Regions from separate parts of the Homo sapiens genome. Here region 2 is linked to region 1. Evidence: fine-mapped expression QTL. A gene starts in region 1. The other region holds a variant in brackets. All regions are shown on one strand. Distances are from middle to middle. Region 1 holds the start of GRHPR (glyoxylate and hydroxypyruvate reductase). Region 2 overlaps ZBTB5 (zinc finger and BTB domain containing 5).

Region 1 (9,886 bases):
TCAGGCACTGAAGCTATGGGGGAGAGAAGTGAGGGGCCCAGGCTCTGGAGCCAGTGGGTTTAAACTCCACTCTACCACTAACAAGACATTATTAAAAACTTCTGTGCGCCTCCATTTCCTCATCTGTAACATGGGGATAATAATAGCACCTGCCTCCTGGCTTGTTGAGAGGATATATGTAGTGCTTACAACAGCACAACACACATATATGGGTACTTCACAAATACAAATCCATTCAAGGAAACCAACCCTGGTGCCCTGGGATGGCCGTTGGTCAGAGACACAGAAGCCGAAGCCAGCTTAGGACAAGCGGAGGGGCCCAGGCCTGCCCCTCGGTTCCGGGGGCCTCACTTCTGTTCCAGGGCTGTTCAGTTACCTGCTCCTAGGCCTGGGAGGCCCAGTGGACAACAGAGTGACCTCTTCTCCACTGATTTGATCTGAATACATTCTGCCCCATGAGGGCCCAAATGAGGGAACTGGTATGATATTCACAGAGAGGTGACATCACCCGCTGAAGATCACACAGCAAGTCCCTGGGCCACCTGGATCCCGGCCACAGCTCCACCCTGCTACCTCCCTCTCTTAAGTAACACATTAATAAGTGTCTTACCCTCAGGCCATTATCTGTGTTCCCAGGCCAGGGAACATTTCTGAAACACATCAAACATTGACAAAAAGAGGTGTTTTTCTGTCCCCAGGCCAGGCCCTTCGGCCTCTGTTAACCAGTGAGTGTTCTCTGTTAATCCTGAGCCCAGCTCCTCCTACACACAAGTACAAACAAGGGCATTGGGCATGGGAGAAACCTGTCCACCAGGGCCAGGAGGGGACACGGAAGGTTAATGGGTCCCCTCCCCCAAAGCAATGCACACAGCTGGGGCTCAATAAGTGCTACTGGGTGGTAGGAACAGAGCCAGCTGAGGGCACAGGAAGAGGGATCTGCTAAGCAGAGGAGGCCTGACCTGGGCTTCATTGGGTAAAACCAGTCATCATAATAAGTAGCTGGCATTTCGGGAGCTCTTAGTTAGTTCCAGACACTGCCCTGAGCACTGGACATGGTCACTCACTAACGTTTCCATGTTTCAGTATCTGTGGGGTGCATATGTTGCTCTCCCCAGTCTACAGACAGGAAGCTGCAGGCAAGAAAGATGAAGTCATTTGCTTAAGTCACACCATTACCAAGAGGCCGAGCTTGGATTCACACCCAGCACCCTGGCTCCAGACCCAAGCTCTCAACCACAATACAAGCCTGTGGAGTGGGAGGGGTGAAATACATGAGTGAGGGGTGACTTCTAGGTATTGGCTTGGGGTGGCTGTCCCTTTGATGGATATGTGGGAGGAGCGCAGGTGTCAGGTGAGGTATTGGGGAGAAGGTGGATGAATTGGGTTTGGCAGGTGTTGAGTTCCAGATACCTGAGGATGCTCAGGTGGAGGAGGCAGGAGAGAGGCGGCTTATGGCTCTGAAGCTGGGTGATGGGGGCTGGAGCTGCTCACTCCAGAGTCATCAGCGTAGAAGCGCAGCCTGGGAGACACCTGAGCGATGAAGGGGCAAGGCCACAGCTAAGGCAGGGGAATTGATATTTAGTGTGCAAGGATTCAAAATGACAGCAAGAAAAGAAGTGTTTTAGAGACTATTACTATTATTATTATTGAGACAGAGTCTTACTCTGTTGCCCAGGCTGGAGTGCAGGGGTGCAATCATAGCTTACTGTAACCTTGAACTCCTGGGCTGAAGTGATACTCCGGCCTCCGCCTTCCGGGACTCAGCCACCACAACCAGCTAACTTTTAAATTTTTCTGTAAAGACAGGGTGGGGGAGCCTCCCTATATTGCCCATGCTGGTCTTGAACTCCTGACCTCAAGCAGTCCTCCAGCTTTAGCCTCCCAAAGTGCTGGGATTACAGGAATCAGCCACCAAACCTGGCCAAATGCTATTTTTATTTATTTTATTTTATTTATTTATTTTTGAGACGGAGTTTTTTTGTTTGTTTGTCTTTTGTTTTCTTTTGAGACAGAGTCTCGCTCTGTCGCCCAGGCTGGAGTAAAGTGGCGTGATCTTGGCTCACTGCAACCTCCACCCCCTGGGTTCAAGCAATTTCCTGCCTCAGCCTCCTGAGTAGTTTGGATTATGGGCACCTGCCACCAAGCCTGGCTAATTTTTTTGTATTTTTAGTAGAGACGGGGCTTTACCATGTTGGCCAGGCTGGTCTCGAACTCCTAAGCTCAGGTGATCCACCCGCCTCAGCCTCCCAAAGTGCTGGGATTACAGGCGTGAGCCACCGCGCCTGGCCAAGTGCTATTTTTAAATGAATGTTTTCTTTATTTTGAGGGTAGATAATAAATGCACAAGATGCAAATTCCCAAAGGGTGAAAATTGTGTCTCTCTTACTCTGTCCCAGTTCACCAGGTCTTCTCCCCAGAGGCAGCCACTGTCCCCAGTTTCTTCTTTTTTCTTTTTCTTTTTTTTTTTTTTTTTTTGTTAGAGACAGGGTCTCACTCACTCTGTTGCCCAGGCTGGAGTGCAGTGGCACAATCACAGTTCACTGCAGCCCCAGCCTCCCAGGCTCAAGCAATCTTCCTACTTCAGTTTCCCAAGTAACTGGGACTACAGGTGTACACCACTACGCCTGGGTAATTAAAAAAAAATTTTTTTTTGTAGAGACAGGGTCTCGCTATGTTGCCCAGGCTTGTCTCAAACTCCTGGGCTCAAGCAATGCTCCTGACTCAGCCTCCCAAAGTGCTGGAATTACAAACCATGAGCCACTGCACCTGGCCTGTTCCCAAAGAAACAAGAAAGATGTTTCTTGTACATCTTTCCAGGGATATTTAACACACAGAAATAGGTGGCCAGGTGTCGTGGCTCACGCCTGTAATCCCAGAACTTTGGAAGTGGATCGCTTTGAGCCCAGGTGTTCGAGACAAGCCCGGTCAACATAATGAAACCCTGTCTCTACAAAAAATACAAAACATTAGCTGGGTGTGGTGGCACATGCCTGTGGTCCCAGCTGCTCAGGAGGCTGAGGCGGGAGGATCATTGGAGCACAGGAGGTAGAGGTTGCAGTGAGCCAAGATTGCACCATTGCCCTCCAGCCTAGATAACAGACTGAGATCCTGTCTCAAAAAAAAAAAAAAAAAAAAAAAAAAAAGAATAGGCATATACTTTCTCCTATAAATGGTAACATATGCACTTTGCATCACCCTGTTTTCTCACTGGACAGTACATCTTGGAGATCATTCCACACTGGTACGCACAGAGCTGCCTCACTCTTTTGATTGATGCAGAGTATTTCACTGTGGGAATGAAGCATACGTAATGAACAGTCCCCTATGAGTGGACCTTTAGGTTGTTTCCCATATTTTACTATTCCAACAATGCCACAATGAAGAGCCTTTGGCAGATGGCATTTTGCACATGTGTGAACGCGTCTGTAAGGTAAATTCCTAAAAGCAAAATTTCTGGGTCAAAAAAGATGTGCAGTCTAAACTTTGATAGCTACTGCCAAACTTTCTTATTGAAGTTGCTGATTTACACTCCTACCAGCAACGTATGAAAGCACCTGGTTCCCCAATGTATTATTTTTTACATTGGTATCTTGCTGTAATTTTAATATGCAGTTCTTTTGTGAGTCAAGTTGAGCACTTTTCATCTTTTGTTTTTTTTTTTTGTTTGTTTTGTTTTTTTTTGTTTTAGATGGAGTCTCACTCTGTCACCCAGGCTGGAGTGTAGTGATGGGATCTCGGCTCACTGCAACCTCCATCTCCTGGACTCATGAGCAATTCTCCTGCCTCAGCCTCCTGAGTAGCTGGAATTACAGGCATGTGCCACCATGCCCACCTAATGTTTGTATATTCAGTACAGACAGAGTTTCACCATGTTGGCCAGGCTGGTCTCAAACTTCTGACCTCAAGTGATCCGCCTGCCTCGGCCTCCGAAAGTGCTGGGATTACAGGCATGAGCCACCGCGCCCAGCCATACATTTAAAGGCCATTTTCTTTTCTATAAACTGTCCATTGATATCCTTTGCTTATTCAGATAAGCTGGGCATCTTTGTCTTAGGAACTATTTGTGCAATAAGTAAATCAACCCCTTGTCTATAAAATGAGTTGCAAATATATGGTATTTTTCCCGGTTTGTTGTCTTATGATTTTGTTAATTTTTTTTTTTTAAGATAAACATAAGCCTGGTATTTCCAGGCACCTGGTATTTCCAGGCAGTCTCCCATACAAGCCCTAACCAGGCTTAGTTTCCAAGATCAGATGCATTCAGGATGGTACGGTTAATTTTTCAATGGAGAATTAGTTGTACTCTTATGGCTTCTGGCTTTCGCACACATAGCGTATCACTTATTTATTGCTGCATAAAGAATTACTCCAAAATTGAACGGCTTAGAGCAACAGCAGTCAGTGCATTATCATCTCTTATGGTTCCGGGGTTGACTGGGCTCAGCCAGTGATTCTCCTAAAGGCTCTTTCTTGCAGTTTTAGCTGTAGTCAGGTGGGAGTTGGCCTGGAGTCACCCGAAGGCTTCCTCACTCATACCTCTGGTCATTGACGGTGGCTGTGAGCCGGGCCCCTGGCTGTGCTGTTGGCCTGAACACCTACACGTGACCTCTCTGTGTGTCCTGGACTTCCTCACAGCCTGGAACCTGGGTTTCTACCCTGGGCCAACCCAAGAGACAGAAAAAGTGGGGGCTTTCAGTCTCTTAAGGCCTGAGCCTGTGGAAACAGGACCCTGAGCGTGTAGAAAAAGCAGGGCTCCCATGAGGCCTTGGACGGGATACTGCCCCCTCTCCCCCGGGGCCCTGATTCCCCAGTGGCACGAGGCGCACCCCCCCACACACACACAAGGACACTGTGTAGGGTCACTGTTACTGTCACTCCCCGAGCACGCACAGTCACCGCTCAGCCGCAACCCGGCGCTCCCTCTCGCGAAGCCACACCCCCTGCGCACGCCGCGCGCGACGTCTCTCCCGCCCACTCCAGCCTGGCCCCGCCCCGGCCCAGCTACATTCCCGGGCCAGCTTCTGTACTGCCAGGTCCGGGTCGGCGGCTGCACTGCGGATGAGACCGGTGCGACTCATGAAGGTGTTCGTCACCCGCAGGATACCCGCCGAGGGTAGGGTCGCGCTCGCCCGGGCGGCAGAGTAAGAGCCTCGCGCGCCGTGGAGGAGGGAGCAGGGCGGTCCCAGGGACCGGAGAGCCGGGCGGGGCGTTTGGGCCTTGTGGCCGGCTGGGGCAGGCTTGGAGTTTTGGGGAGTCTCGGAGAAAGTTCTCTGGGGCCCAGTTCTCCTCTTAAGACGACGCTGGGACCTGCAGTTCCGGCTTTGGAGAGGGGAGATTGCCCCTGAGGCAAGGTCCAGGCTAATTCTCCACGCTCCCACAGGACATGTGGGGTCAGGGACATGGCGGTCACTGACCAGGCCCTTGGACGTTTGGCAGGGGGCTTTGATGACTCTTCTTCTTTATATTTACTTATCTTTTTTTTTTTTTTTTTGAGACAGTCTCACTCTGCTGCACAGGCTGGAGTGCAGTGGCTCGATCGATCGTGGCTTACTGCAGCCTCGACTTCTTGGGCCCAATCAGTTCTCCCACCTGAGCCTCCCGAGTAGCTGGGACTACAGGCGCAAACAATCACTACCGGCTAATTTTCTGATTTTTTTTTTGTAGAGATGGGGGTCTCACTCTGTTGCTCAGGCTGGTCTCAAATTCCTGGGCTCAAGCAATCCTCTTGCCTCAGCCTCCCAAAGTGTTGGGATTACAGGTGTTAGTCACCATGACTGGCCTGAGGACCCTTTAATTTTTAAGACAGGGTCTCACTCTCATCCAGGCTGGAGTGCAGTGGCACCATTATACCTCACTGCAGCCTCAACCTCCTGGACTCAAGAGATACTTCCACCTCAGCCTCCCAAGTAGCTGGGACTACTACAGGCATGCACTACCATGCCTGGCTAATTTTTTATTTTTTTCAAAGACGAGGGTCTCACTGTGTTGCCCAGGCTGGTCCTGAACTCCTGTACGAAGGGATCCTCCCACCTCAGCCTCCCAAAGTGCTGGGATTACAGGCATGAACCACTGCACCTGGCCCACCCTTGCTAAATGGAACCCTTTTTGTGGGCCAACCTTGCCAGGTGCTTCATATACATAAACTTTTAATCCTGGTAGCACTGTGAAGTCAGTATTATAATTCCCATTGCACAGATTAAAAACTGGAGGCTGGACTTAGGGTTAAGTTTCTTCCCAAAGCCATGCAGCTCCCAGGTGGAGGAGCTGGGGCTTGTACTCAGAAGTGTCTGACTGCTGTCTGATCACTGCATTTGATCAGGTTTGTGTTTCCAATGTTAGATAGGAAGAGGATGCAATCCAGCCTCAGCAGCCAGTTCTAGGGGCATATGAGATTTTCAAATTTTGTTCACTGCAACAAAACCTTTGCCAAGGACCCACTTTGTACTGAGCAGGAGAAGGTGGAAGGCAGCAACCGCGCCCATGGTAACAGTAGCTCACGCTGTACCCTGCTCATGGGGAGGTGGATGAAAGGTGGTCAGTGCCCTGGGCTCAGTCAGGAGGTGCAAGTAGCTATCCTGTGTCCTGCCACATAGAGGCTCCACACGTGCTGACTGTACTGAATTCCATGGCAAGGGCCAGGAGGCACCGTGCATCACTGGGACAAATATCTGGTTGCTGTGAGCTGCCGTGGAAGCGTTGGGTGGCCTTGACCTTATCTTTCCTGGCCCAGTCCAACTATGAGAGTTTTCTATTTCATGGACTCCACGGACAGGAAGAGATGCAACAGGCCATTGAATCCAGGCCCCCCACCTGAGGCACACCCTGCCCCCCACGGGCCTTCCCTGCAGTTGGCCGCCTGCTTGGCCGCCCAGCCCCTGTGAATGTGGGAAAGCTCTTCTCTGTGCTGACCTGAGAGCTGTCCCCATGCCTTCCCCCTTGCAGCTTAGGCTCTGCTGGGGGGCCCCTCAGCCCTTCACCTGTCACCTGCTGTCTCGGGACAGTTCTGAGACCACCCCTGCCTGACCCTGCCTCCCCTCAGCCAGCCCCGGGCAGCCTGAGGCCAGGGCCATCAGAGGCCAGGATTCCCAGCTGGGAGGGGCGGGGACAGGTGTGCGGCTCCTGCTTCTCCTGAGGGCCTCCCTTTCCCCGCAGCTGTGAGGTGGAGCAGTGGGACTCGGATGAGCCCATCCCTGCCAAGGAGCTAGAGCGAGGTGTGGCGGGGGCCCACGGCCTGCTCTGCCTCCTCTCCGACCACGTGGACAAGAGGATCCTGGATGCTGCAGGTGCACACTGGGTGGGCAGGGGACTTGAGGGTGGCTTGGCCCTGTGGGCCCCTCAGCCTGTGCTGCTGGCTCCTGGCTGCTCTGCAGTGCTGTCTGGGTTCTGAGGGCGTTTCCTGCGATACCAGGCCCGAGCGGGCAGATAGCTTGCTCTGGCACAGGCACTGCCCCTCCCTCCTGCTGTGAACCCCTTGGCGGGGGACCCTAGGAGGGCAAAGACCGCGGTGTGGAGACTGTGGGTGTGGGGAAGTGCATCCAAGGCCCTGGGTTCTCCAGCCCTGCCACAACCTTGCTCTGTGACCTCCAGCAAGACCCTGCCCCTTCTGGGCGTGTGCGTAGTATGAGGGAGGACCTAGCTCAGTGCCAAGCCCCAGCAGGATGTCTTTCCTCAACCGCAGCCACGGGTCTCAGCCCATGGAAGAATAAACCTCCCCCTGTGAGGCTGTTGTGACAGTTTTGAGAAAAGGTTCAGACTCAGAGGCTGCCAGATGGGAAGGGACCCTTGTGAGTCAGTGCTGAGCCGCCCCACATCCTGGCCTTGGCCTGGAAGCTTTGTGGTGTCCTGCTTGCAGGAGAGGGTAGAGAGGGTCACGTCCCAGCCACCTTCTTGGCACTCTCAGAGGTGTCCATGGGGGAGGCCCCAGCGTGGCTAAAGAAGACCGGAGGCCTCGCTGGGTGGACAGTCCAGTGGGTAAGAGCGGGGCCTTGGTGGCAGAGGCCCTGAGGTGAACCCGGCTCTGCCTGTGACTGAGCCAGGCCACTTAACCTCCCTGAACTGCAGTGTCTGAGGCTGTCAAAGGGGATTATTCAGAGTTTTAACTGAAGAACAGAGATGTCAGCCTCTTATTCTAAGAAAACAATAATAAGCGGTGTCCCCATGATAGTCCCCAGTGCTGTGGCTTTGAGTTCCTCGAGGAAAGATACTAACAATGCACTTTCTGCACAACAGGGGCCAATCTCAAAGTCATCAGCACCATGTCTGTGGGCATCGACCACTTGGCTTTGGATGAAATCAAGAAGCGGTAACTGCAGCTTGGGATCTGGAGGGGGCCTAGAGAGAGGGGTGGCTATGAGAGAAAGAAGAGCTGTTGATTTGTTTTTACTGCATATCCCTCGGCCATTCAGGGAGAATGTGAGGTGGCTGATGATAGAATCTGTCCACATGTGCACAGGTCAGTTACAATAAACCCCAGCAGTCAGAAACAGTGGGTAACTTCTGTGTAGGTGGCACCCTTTCACATTCATTATCTTTTTTGATCCCCACAACAATACCTTGAAGTAGCAAAGGCAGGTGTTATTCTTTCTGTTTCAGATGAGGAAATTCAGAAAGGTTAAGTTACTTGTTCAGTCCCTGAACCCTGATCTTCCATCTTCATATCCTTCCAAAGTGGGAGATAATCTAAATAGGAATGAGGACTGCCCGTTTTTGAGTGCTCATTTATAGTTCTGAGCTTCCTGGCAGGCAGATCAAAGAGGGAGCAAAGTAACTCCATGGAAATGTCCCAGCAGTAGACATTGGTAAATATGGTTGAGGCTGATGTTACCACCAGATGTCTGATTCGTAGTGGGATCCGAGTTGGCTACACCCCAGATGTCCTGACAGATACCACCGCCGAACTCGCAGTCTCCCTGCTACTTACCACCTGCCGCCGGTTGCCGGAGGCCATCGAGGAAGTGAAGAAGTAAGTGAACGCAGACCAGGTGCGGTGGCTCACGGCTGTAATCCCAGCACTTTGGGAGGCCAAAGTGAGCGGATCATGAGGTTAGGAGTTCGAGACCAGTCTGGCCAACATAGTGAAACCCCGTCTCTAGTAAAAATACAAAAAAAATTAGCTGGGTGTGGTGGTGGGTCCCTGTAATCCCAGCTACTTGGGAGGCTGAGGCAGGAGAATCATGTGAACCCAGGAGACAGAGGTTGCAGTGAGCTGAGATCACACCATTGCACTCCAGCCCAGGTGACGGTGTGAGACTCTGTCTCAAAAAAAAAAAGAAAAATAAGTGAACGCCTGGCAGGAACGTTGGCTCTGCTCAGCACTGGATCCTGATCACTGTGCCAGTCCAGCCCACGCATAGTCCCTGACCCCAGGTGTGCCCCATTGAGTGAGGACTCAGCTAAAATAAAGCACAAAGCAGAGCTGCAATAAGGGCAGAAAGGGAAGTGGTGAGAGAAGAGGATGAGGGAGGACAAACAAGTTCTGCTGGTGGGTGAGGGCTGGCAGGGAGAGTGTGGATCAGGGAGGGCTTCACAGAATAAGTAGCAGGTGGGCGTCCGCTTGAGTCCTGAAAGCTGCAGGTCCACCATCCCTTAGATCCCAAAATCTAAAAAGCTCGGACAGCTGAAAGTTCTTTCATACTAACAGGAGACTATTTAAGGCTTTTATTTCTCCCATTTAATGTGACTTTCCTAAGTTTTGCTGCAGATGTAACACTTTTAAAACAGGCTGCTGCCCAGACACTGCAGAGGGTGATGTGTGGAATCTACCACGTGCGCCATGCTGCCTTTCTAAAGGCCAAACAGTTTTAAAATCTAGCCTGAAGGTTTCAGATCAGGGATTTCGGCCTGTATATCAAGAGTTAGAGTTGGCCGGGCACGGTGGCTCACACCT
Region 2 (9,886 bases), 36 kb after region 1:
ACAGGTGTGAGCACCATGAAGTTTTCAGATCTGTTACACAGCACTAAGTAACTGTAACGGTGTGAAACTTTTTTACCATTTCCCCACAAATCAACATTCAAATACTATCTCCACCTTTTCGGGGAGAGGGGGTCCCTCTATGTCATTGGAGAAAATCACTTCCCACCCATTCTTAGTCCATGAGTCCATGTAGTACAGATCGAACTGCCCCAAACACCTGAGTTTACCAGGAGACGGAGGATCCAGGGAGACCCAGTCAACTTGGTACCCACTCTCCTTGATTACAGTGATTGTTTCAGACAATCACTTGGGTATGTGACCCAAGTTCTGCCAATGGAGTCTGCCTGTGGGCTTTTGCTGGTATATCAAGAAAGAGACTATCTCAACCCAGATTACAAACTGTGAGGGAGTTATAAATCCAGCACTGAGAGTGACCATTTTTGCCTGTTTGAGAACGAAGCCAACACAGAAGAGAGTGATACCAAAAACACTGTCCAGAAGGTATCAAGACTCTGGAATCCAGGTATGACTAAAGTTGGCACCACCCTAGGACTTGTTTCATGAGCCAGTGAACTCCCCTTTTACCTTAACCTGGTTTGTGTTGGATCTCTGCCACACAGTCAAACATGAAGTTCAAATTACATCTCCCAGGAAAACCTATATAATACAGCTATCTCAAAACCTTTAGAACTTTTTTGGATCTAGAGGGAATATTTTAAAAATTCAGTTCATTTGGGGGATATAAAATTTGCTATTATCTGCTCTGATGGAAGGGAATCATGAATCAAGATCATTCTTACTCAGAACTCTCAAGTAATTCTAGCAAAGTCAGAAGGCCAGTCTAAAAGCCTTAACAGAGCTCAGGCTGAGTAAATTAAGAGTTTTACCCAAAGCTGCCTGTCTGAAGCCTTCTAACCAAGGAAAAAGGCTTCAGGTCTCTTTAAAAGGCTCCAAAATGTGACAATATGAGTCAACATAGCTGGAGGAGAGTGTGGCAAGCAATCTACTGATGTATAACTGTGTCTAACCCAAAGCAAGTGTAAAGTTCAGTATTTGTTATCTGCAGGAACAAATATTTAGGAATTTCAAAACTAAATATAATTAAGAAAATACACTCTCATTACTGTCCATTACATTAACATGAATAATCAAAAGATGACTTTTCTCAATAGATTTACTTTTCTAATAATGCTTTACTTAGGCTAATAAAGTTCCTTTCTGTCTTCGGAGAACAAGCCAGCACATTTTAAACTATTTAATTTATACACTGATATACCCACATGCTTCTCAATAATATACTTCATTCATAACAAAAACCGCACCCATACTCAAACATCATCTACTACCATATCAAGTAATTTGCTGCTTGCCTGCCAGGCAGGATCCACACAGTTGTCACCTGCAGAAAGCAAATTAACATTCTAAGGAATCCTTAACATTCAGTAGCCCAATCTAGATAAAACCCTAGCAGATCCTACTTCTGTGTGGGCTCAGCAAAAACAAAAACCCTAGTGATATGGACAGGAGACAGGGAAATGCTGGGTAGAAGAAGGCAGTACCCCAGCTAAGGCCCCACCCTCAAGCCTGGAAACCTGTGGCCCTAAATGGGAACAGGCATCCCTGTTTTTGCACCCAAATGTTGCCTTTTGGCCTGCCACACCATGCTATCCTGTACACATATAAACCCCAAACCCCAGGTTCCACAGGCAGATGAGCAGACAAACAGAATGTGCAGAGGAGCATAAGAGCAGCGTGGCCAAGGAGAGAAGAGAAGGAGCATCTGAATGTCAAGAGCCATTCAGCTGGGGATGGTCAGAGAGATCGGCCACAGGACAGCCGAACTCCAGGGGAAGATCATCTTCCCACTCCATCCCCTTTCCAGCTCCCCATCCATCCCACTGAGAGCCACCTCCATCATCCAATAAAATCCCGAATACACCATCCTTCAAGTCCATGTGTGACCCAATTCTTCCTGGATGCTGGACAAGAACCCAAATACCAAGAAGGTACTGAGCTGGTTAACACTTAACCCATCTGCATATGGCAAGCTAAAAGAGCACTGTAGCATGCCCAATGGGGCTTCGGGAGCTGCAGGCACCCACCCCTAGATGCCACCGTGGGGCCAGAGCCTAAAAGAGCTTGCCCCAGCTCCTGCCCCTGCCTGTCTCTGTGCTCCTCCTCCTGTAAAGGGTTTTAGCAGTGGTGGCAGCCAAACAGACGAGCCACATCATTGTCACACGTCCTGCGAGGGGGGTTCAGAGAACTCTCCCATTTCATCAGCAGAAAAATAACTAGACAGAACATTTCCTCCACTTGTAGAGACGATATAGATGAAAACAAAAGTCAGAGAGCAGAACAAAGCAAGGACCCACTCAAGTAGGCTAGGATTTTTTTTTTTTAAATACAGGTGGGGTCTCAATATGCCCAGGCTGCTTTTGAACTCCAGCGCTCAAGCAATCCTCCTACCACAGGCTCCGGAAGTGCAGGCTAGGATTTTTTTTTTTTTCTTTTTTTGAGGCAGGATCTCACTCTCTCACTCAGGCTGGAGTACAGTGGCCTGATCACGGTTCACTGCAGCCTTGACCTCCCAGGCTCAAGGTGATCCTCCCACCTCAGCCTCCTGGGTAGCTGGGACTACAGGTGCGTGTCACCATGCCTGGCTAATTTTTGTATTTTTTGTAGATAGGGGGTTTTGCCATGTTGCCCAGGCTGGTTTCAAACTCCTGGGCTCAATCAATCCACCTGCCTCAGCCTCCCAAAGTGCTGGGATTACAGCCGTGAGCCACCCACCCACCTGGCCCAGGCTAGGAATTTTGACAGGGCTCCAAGTCAGACAGAGCGGAGTACTGGAACATCCATCCATTGTTCTAATTTGACCAGCAAAGTGGGAGTAGGGGAAGGCTGGAACTAGGTGGGCACAATGATGCCTGGGTTAACCCCAAGAAACCAGACCTGTCAGCATGACTAATGTCATAATATCTCTGGTTCTGCTCTGTCAGGGTTGGCTCAGAAACTGAACAGATTAGTTCTATAAAACAGGAAAATTCCACTAGTGACTAAAGATGAGCATGACTGAGGAAGGCGAGCTGGAAGCCCTGACCATCTCACCTAACTCTCCAATTCTCTCCACATTGCCACCTTGTTTTCCAGGCCAAAATCCCTAGGGATGAATTGACCTAGAGCTCTGTAACTCAGTTTGAATAAGAAAAGGTATTAGTGCCCTACTTAGGTTCCTAGTACAAGCTCAAATGCTTTTTCTACTAAAACAGCTTATTGAGGGCAGGAACTGTATTTTCTCTCTCTCAAAGTGCCTGACATAAAATACTCAGTAAATTATTTGCTGAATAAACTTTTGCTATATATGGATGAAGTATAATGTATTACCCAAAAATCACTTTTCTGAGAATCACAACTATCTCTAAAATCAGCCAAAAACCAGAAGAAAAAGTCTCAGAATATCCAAAATAAAGATCAAAGACTATGGATGAAAGATTTTCTCATAGGAAAGTCCCTTAAGCCCTCACACAGTCTTTTGTTCGAAACAAAATTCAAGTTTTTCTAGTTCCCTAACTAACTGAAGCAGCAACTCCAGAATGAGAGCAAGGAGTGGCTGCTTAAATGAAGTTAAGCTGATAGCTGCAGAAAGAGACAGCTGACCCACTAAGGGGGAAAAGAGGCCCAGCAGCTTGGAGCTAGGTAGTATACAGCTCAAGGGACCTCAACAGCCCATAAAGGTACTTGTGTATTTTTTGTATACAAGTTCATTCATGTAATATGTTTTTTGTTTTGTTTTGTTTTTGAGACAGAGTCTTGCTTTGCCACCCAGGCTGGAGTGTGGTGGTGCAATCACAGCTCACTGTAGCCTCCACTTCCCTAGCTCAAGTGACTCTCCCACCACAGCCTCCCAAATACTGGTACTACAGGCACGTCACCATGCCCAGCTAATTTTTTATTCTTTGTAGAGACGGGTCTCACTATGTTGCTCTGGCTGGTCTCGAACTCCTGGGCTCAGGTATTCCTCCTACCTTGGCCTCCCAAAGTGCTGAGATTACAAGTGTGAGCCACCATGCCAGCATCATCTAATGTTTTAAAGTGCTTACTTGTTCAAGGTTAAGCGCTGTGGAGCATAGATTTGTATGGGACAGTACTAACTGTCACAGGTATTTAGTGGAAATAAGATATACATGAATAACGATATTACAAAGTGGAAGGCACTAAGTGCCACATAAGAGGTGAAAGAACCTCTCAATGGTTTGGAGAAGGCAAAGGTTATTTCTAGCTTCATGGTAGCGTTGACAACAGAGCTAGGTCTTGGTTGGATTTGGACAAACCCCTAGACAGAGGTAAAGGTGGAGAAGGGGTTGAGGTGGGTAAAGCAATGTATTCGATTTGGCTGGAAAATAGTATGGCTAGAAAGGTAGGTATTGGATAGTGACTGCTCATAACTGATGTTAATAATTACAAGTCATCAGAAAGGTTAACCATGAGGCACATACTTTTGAACTAAAGGCTATCATCACTTTTGAGATTACTTTCTTAAAAAGTATTTTAGGGTTTTTTTCTTAAGTTTAAGCAGCACATCAGCCAGAGTCATTGGTTGCAGCAACAAAAATTGATCCTAAACATAAAAGTAATTTACTGAAAGGCTATTAGTTTGATCATGGAATTGATGGGAAGGCTGGATACGTAAGATTGAACTGGGAAGAAATTAAGCTAGGCAGCAGGAACAATCAGGTCAGAATGCCAAACATCTGTGCTGAACACAGCTACTACTAACCAAATGCTCACTCCAATGGAGACCCAGCCTCCCCTTCCCTACATCTGTTATTAAGTCTCAACTCTTGAGTACCTGTTTTCAATATGTGTGATAAAATGGGAAGTACACCTGAAGTTTTCCTCCTGCATTCTGAAATACAAGTTGCCTCAAGAAAAAGCACTTGTGCAGTTTTTGAGGTGGCTCAACTAATTGCTTTTCTCATGGGACACTATTTTTACTTGAAAGAACGAATGACAAACTATGGTTATTTAGAAGTATTTACCATTTTCTTGAAAATGAATGAAAAAATGAATGAAACAAGCCTGTTATTTTAAATAAGATAACTTAGTACTACTTATTGCCAATAAAAAAGTTTGAGAATTCAGGTGAAAATTAGTATTTTGGAAAACTTGTATCTGTCACTGTGAGCTTGACAGCTTCCCACATGCTCAAATTCTTCTGACAGATCATTGGTGATATTAATGAAATGTGATTTTTTTACATTGTATAATAAATGAGTCAACGTTTGGAAGATCTGCATAACTCTGAAATCAGTATTTTCCAAATGACCATGTAGCCATGTAACAATAATGCTATAAAACAAGGTATGGGTAAAAATTCATTCAAGGTACAAAACATAAGCTAATG[T/C]ATTTTAATGCAACAGAATATGAAAAGTTCATTGACATAATTTCAGATTCCACATTGCACTAATCACTTAAGAAAATACCACTTGTGGAGTTTTGGTACAGTATCAGAGTAAGAATATCCAAAATTATCTGAAAAATCTACTGAAATAATCCTCCCTTTCCAACTACATATTTGTGTGATGCTGGAGTTTTTTGGTATATTTTAATCAAAATAGTGTATCACGGCAAAATGAATGCAGAAGCATTTAATGGAATCCAGCTGTCTTCTATTAAACTACATATTAAAGAGATTTACAAAAAATGTAAAACAGGGCATGGGCATGCCAGCCCCTGCTTCTCAGCCTGTACTCCCAGCACTTTGGGAGGCCAAGGCAGGTGGATCACCTGAGGTCAGGAGTTTGAGACCAGCCTGACCAACATGGAGAAAAGCCGTCTCTACTAAAAATACAAAAAATTGGTGGGGCGTGGTGACACATGCCTGTAATCCCAGCTACTCGGGAGGCTGAGGCAGAAGAATCGCTTGAACCTGGGAGGCAGAGGTTGCAGTGAGCCAAGATCGCACCACTGTACTCCAGTCTGGGCAACAAGAGCAAAACTCTATCTCAAAAAAAAAAAAAAGTTTTCTTTTCTTTCCAATCCCAACTGATGTGTAGCATAAACAACTTTTAAACATGTCTTTTACCCCTGACAGATCAAGAAACTTTTTTTTTTTTTTCAGGCAGAGTCTCACTCTGTTACCCAGGCTGGAGTGCAGTGGCACAATCTCAGCTCACTGCAACCTCCAGTTCAAGCAATCCTCCTGCCTCAGCCTCCCGAATAGCTGGGATTACAGGCGTGCACCACCATGCCCAGCTAATTTTTTTTTTTTTTTTTGAAATGAGTCTTGCTCTGTTGCCCAGGCTGGAGTGCAGTGGTGCGATCTCGGCTCACTGCAAGCTCTGCCTCCCGGGTTCATGCCATTCTCCTGCCTTAGCCTCCCAAGTAGCTGGGACTACGGGCGCCCGCCACCACACCTGGCTAATTTTTTGTATTTTTAGTAGAGACGGGGTTTCACCTTGTTAGTCAGGATGGTCTCGATCTCCTGACCTCATGATCTGTCCGTCTCGGCCTCCCAAAGTGCTGGGATTACAGGCGTGAGCCACTGCGCCAGGCCATTTTTTTTAATTTTTAGTAAAGACTGGGTTTCATCATATTAGCCAGGCTAGTCTCAAGCTACTGACCTTGTGATCTGCCTACCTCAGCCTCCCAAAATGCTGGGCCTGGCCAAGAAACTTCTTTCTTAATGAAAAAAATTAGTCCAGCTAGGCACAGTGGCTCACGCCTGTAATCCCAGCACTTTGGGAGGCCGAGGCGGGTGGATCAACTGAGGTCGGAAGTTCGAAACTAGCCTGACCAACATGGAGAAACCCTGTCTCTGCCAAAAATAAAAAATTAGCCGGGCATGGTGGTGCATGCCTGTAATCCCAGCTACTCGGGGGCTGAGGCAGGAGAATCGCTTGAACCCGGGAGGTGGAGGTTGCAGTGAGCCAAGATCGCGCCATTGCGCTGGATCCAGCCTGGGCAATAAGAGTGAACACTCCCCCCCCAAAAAAATTAGGCCAGATGCGGGGCTCACACCTGTAATCCCAGTACTTTGGGAGGCTGAAGCGGGAGGCTCATTTGAGACCTGCTTGGTTAACATAGCAAAACCTTTTCTCTACAAAAAAATTTTTTTTTAATTAGCTGGGTGCTGGGCATGGTGGCTCACGCCTATAATCTCAACATGTTGGGAGGCCAAGGTGGGAGAAATGCTTGAGTCCAGGAGTCTAAGACCAGCCTGGAAAACATAGGGAGACCCCCACCTCCACAAAAAATACAAAAATTAGCTGGGCGTGGTGGTGCATGCCTGTAGTCCCAGCTACTTGGGAGGCTGGGTGGGGGAGGGTTGCTTGAGCCCAGGAGTTTGGGGCTGCAGTGAGTTATGACCATCCCACTACACTCCAGCCCAGGTGACAGAGCAAGACCCTATCTCAAAAGCAAAACAGAACAAAGTAGAAAGAAAAAAAAAAACTAAACTTTTATCAAGATGAAAACTATGACAAAGCTTTGGAGACACTATTATTATGGTGCCTTTCCAACAGAGAAGATGAACATGGACTTAATCCATTTCTTACACCTAGTTTACTTTCAAAGCAGTATATGCCTTCACTTCTCAATCATTTATCAAATCAATAATGCTCAGCAAGTGACCTTCACTTGACCTGCAGAGTTGCTTTTGATCATCTATTCAAAATAAGTACAATCTAAGTAACTTAAATGTGTTTAGATTTTTGTAGCATTTCTGGGCTCCTCCCACAACCAAATGCCCAAACACTGGATTTTGTTTTCCTGGTCTTCCTTCCTCAAATCCTCTTCGCAAAAAAGACTAAACCATAAGGACTATAAAGGTGAAAGCCTTGTATTTTTAGAGGAAGATGGTTGAGTGGATTTTAAATTATAATTGACTAAGATGTACTGAAAAATTAATTATACCATGTCAACAATATCATGCATAGAAAAAAAGGGGAGCAACTCACCCTAAACATTTTAAACTTAAGAAAATGGCAATCAGCCAGGTGCAGTGGCTCTCATGCCTGTAATCACGCACTTTGGGAGGCCAAGGCAGTCGGATCACCTGAGGTCAGGAGTTCAAGACCAGCCTGGCCAACATGGCGAAACCCTGTCTCTACCAAAAAGTACAAAAATTAGTCGGGCATGGTGGCACGAGCTGTAGTCCCAGCTACTCAGGAGGCTGAGACACAAGAATCATTTGAACCCAGGAGGCGGAGGTTGCAGTGACCCGAGATCAGATTATGCCATTGCACTCAAGCCTGGGTGACAGAGTGAGACCCTGTCTCAAAAAAAAAAGTAAATTAGGAATAAAGGCATTTGTAAACCTGTTACCATACAAAGTAACAGATTACCAAGTATAATTTCCAAAAAGTAGACCTATCACTTAATCATCCTTTAAAATTTGTAAAATGAACATTTTATTTGTTAATTTCCATTTACATAAGGAAAAATATCACGCTCGATAGGCTTCTTTTCAGTAACAAACATTTTCCAGAGCAGGAAAACGAATTAGGAAAATTTATTGGTTACAATTACAAGGAATTAGTTGGGTACAAAAGTCTCTTTATGGGGGATAGGCAGCCAGGATTTTACTATGTTGCCTGGGCTGGTTTGAACTCAAGTGATCCTCCTGCCTCAGACTCCCAAGTAGTTGGGACTACAGGTGTGTGCCACCTGAGCTAAAATTCTATTAATTTTACCAAATTTCATTAAATCTAAGATGTCTGTGATTATAAAATGCATTATTTCATGTAACACTAGGAAAAAAACTGCCAATTAAGCTATGGCATAATGCTTACTTATGGTATCCTGTCTTCAAGGAAGGAAAACTGTCTGCCAATGACTACTATGATAGAGGCAGGAGACAGACAAATGCCTAGGCAGACAGGGGCACATCCCCAGTGAAACCCCACCTCCAAGCCGAAGACAGTTTAAAAGCTTGAAAGCCAAGCTACAAGTCAAATCCACGGACCAGATTGAGAACCTGTGTTCCCATTTGGCATGCTTTCCTCTGACTGATCCCCACCCTTCACCTATTTTACATATATCTACCCCTTTCCTAATTGGTTTTCTACACTGTCGTGCCCACCTTTGAGTGGTGTCTTTGCTTTAACCGTTTTTTTTTTTTTTTTGAGACAGGGTCTCACTCTGTCTCCAAGACTCCAAGTGTGCAGTGGCATGCTCTCAGCTCAATGCAACTTCTGCCTCCCAGGCTCAAGCGATTCTTCCGCCTCGGCCTCCTGAGTAGCTGGGATTACAGGCGCACGTCACCATGCCGGGTTAATTTTTGTATTTTTAGTAGAGACAGGGTTTCACCATGTTGGCCAGATTGGTCTTGAACTCCTGAGCTCAGGCAATCTGCCCGCCTCAGCCTCCCCAATTGCAGTAATTACAGGCGTGAGCCACCACACCCGGCCTTCCCTTTAAACTTTTTGCATCAGAAACCAATCAGCACACACTCCCCATTCTGAGTCCCTAAGAAGCCCCGGAACCAGCCACACTGGGAAAGAGACCACCCCCTGCATGCCCTCTTCTCTGAGAGCTGTTCCATCACTCAATAAAATTCTTCTCTGCCCTCCTCACCCTTCGAATTGTCAGAGTAACCTAATCTGTTTGGGATGTCAAGATAAATCAAAGCTTTTAGGAAATACATGTATAACTAATAAAATGAAAGGCACCTCTAAAACTGGATCTTGAAATTAAAAGCTACTATTCAGTGGTGAAAATGATGAGAACATATGCAAAGAGCAATAGTTCACTCAGAAACAGCTGGTCTTTTAGGAGATGAGAAGTTCACTTCATACTTAGACAAAAGGCATAGTGTAGTGCTACATTCCATCCCACCTGCTACACTAACAAAACTGGCTCTACTAGACAACATCCATATTTGAGA

What was found. PIP is the estimated chance that this variant, and not a neighbour inherited with it, causes the effect.
Region 2: its variant is the best candidate, but not a certain one, in a credible set for the expression of GRHPR in esophagus mucosa (GTEx, PIP 0.56).

What each region holds. Positions count from the first base shown.
Region 1 is chr9:37,417,693-37,427,578 of GRCh38, forward strand. It overlaps GRHPR (glyoxylate and hydroxypyruvate reductase), which reads left to right and starts at 5,004. Exons shown (of 9, transcript NM_012203.2): 1 at 5,004-5,141; 2 at 7,153-7,283; 3 at 8,230-8,302; 4 at 8,846-8,962. The coding sequence starts at 5,059. It overlaps LOC105376035 (a long non-coding RNA gene), which reads left to right. Exons shown (of 4, transcript XR_007061479.1): 4 at 1-1,816. RefSeq lists enhancers at 4,350-4,975, 4,976-5,601, 7,276-8,216 and a silencer at 4,816-4,965.
Region 2 is chr9:37,453,454-37,463,339 of GRCh38, forward strand. All of the region lies in intron 1 of ZBTB5 (zinc finger and BTB domain containing 5), which reads right to left. Among named protein-coding and RNA genes, the nearest start is that of ZBTB5, 7.1 kb to the right of the region's middle. The variant T/C (reference allele first, on the strand shown) is at 5,405.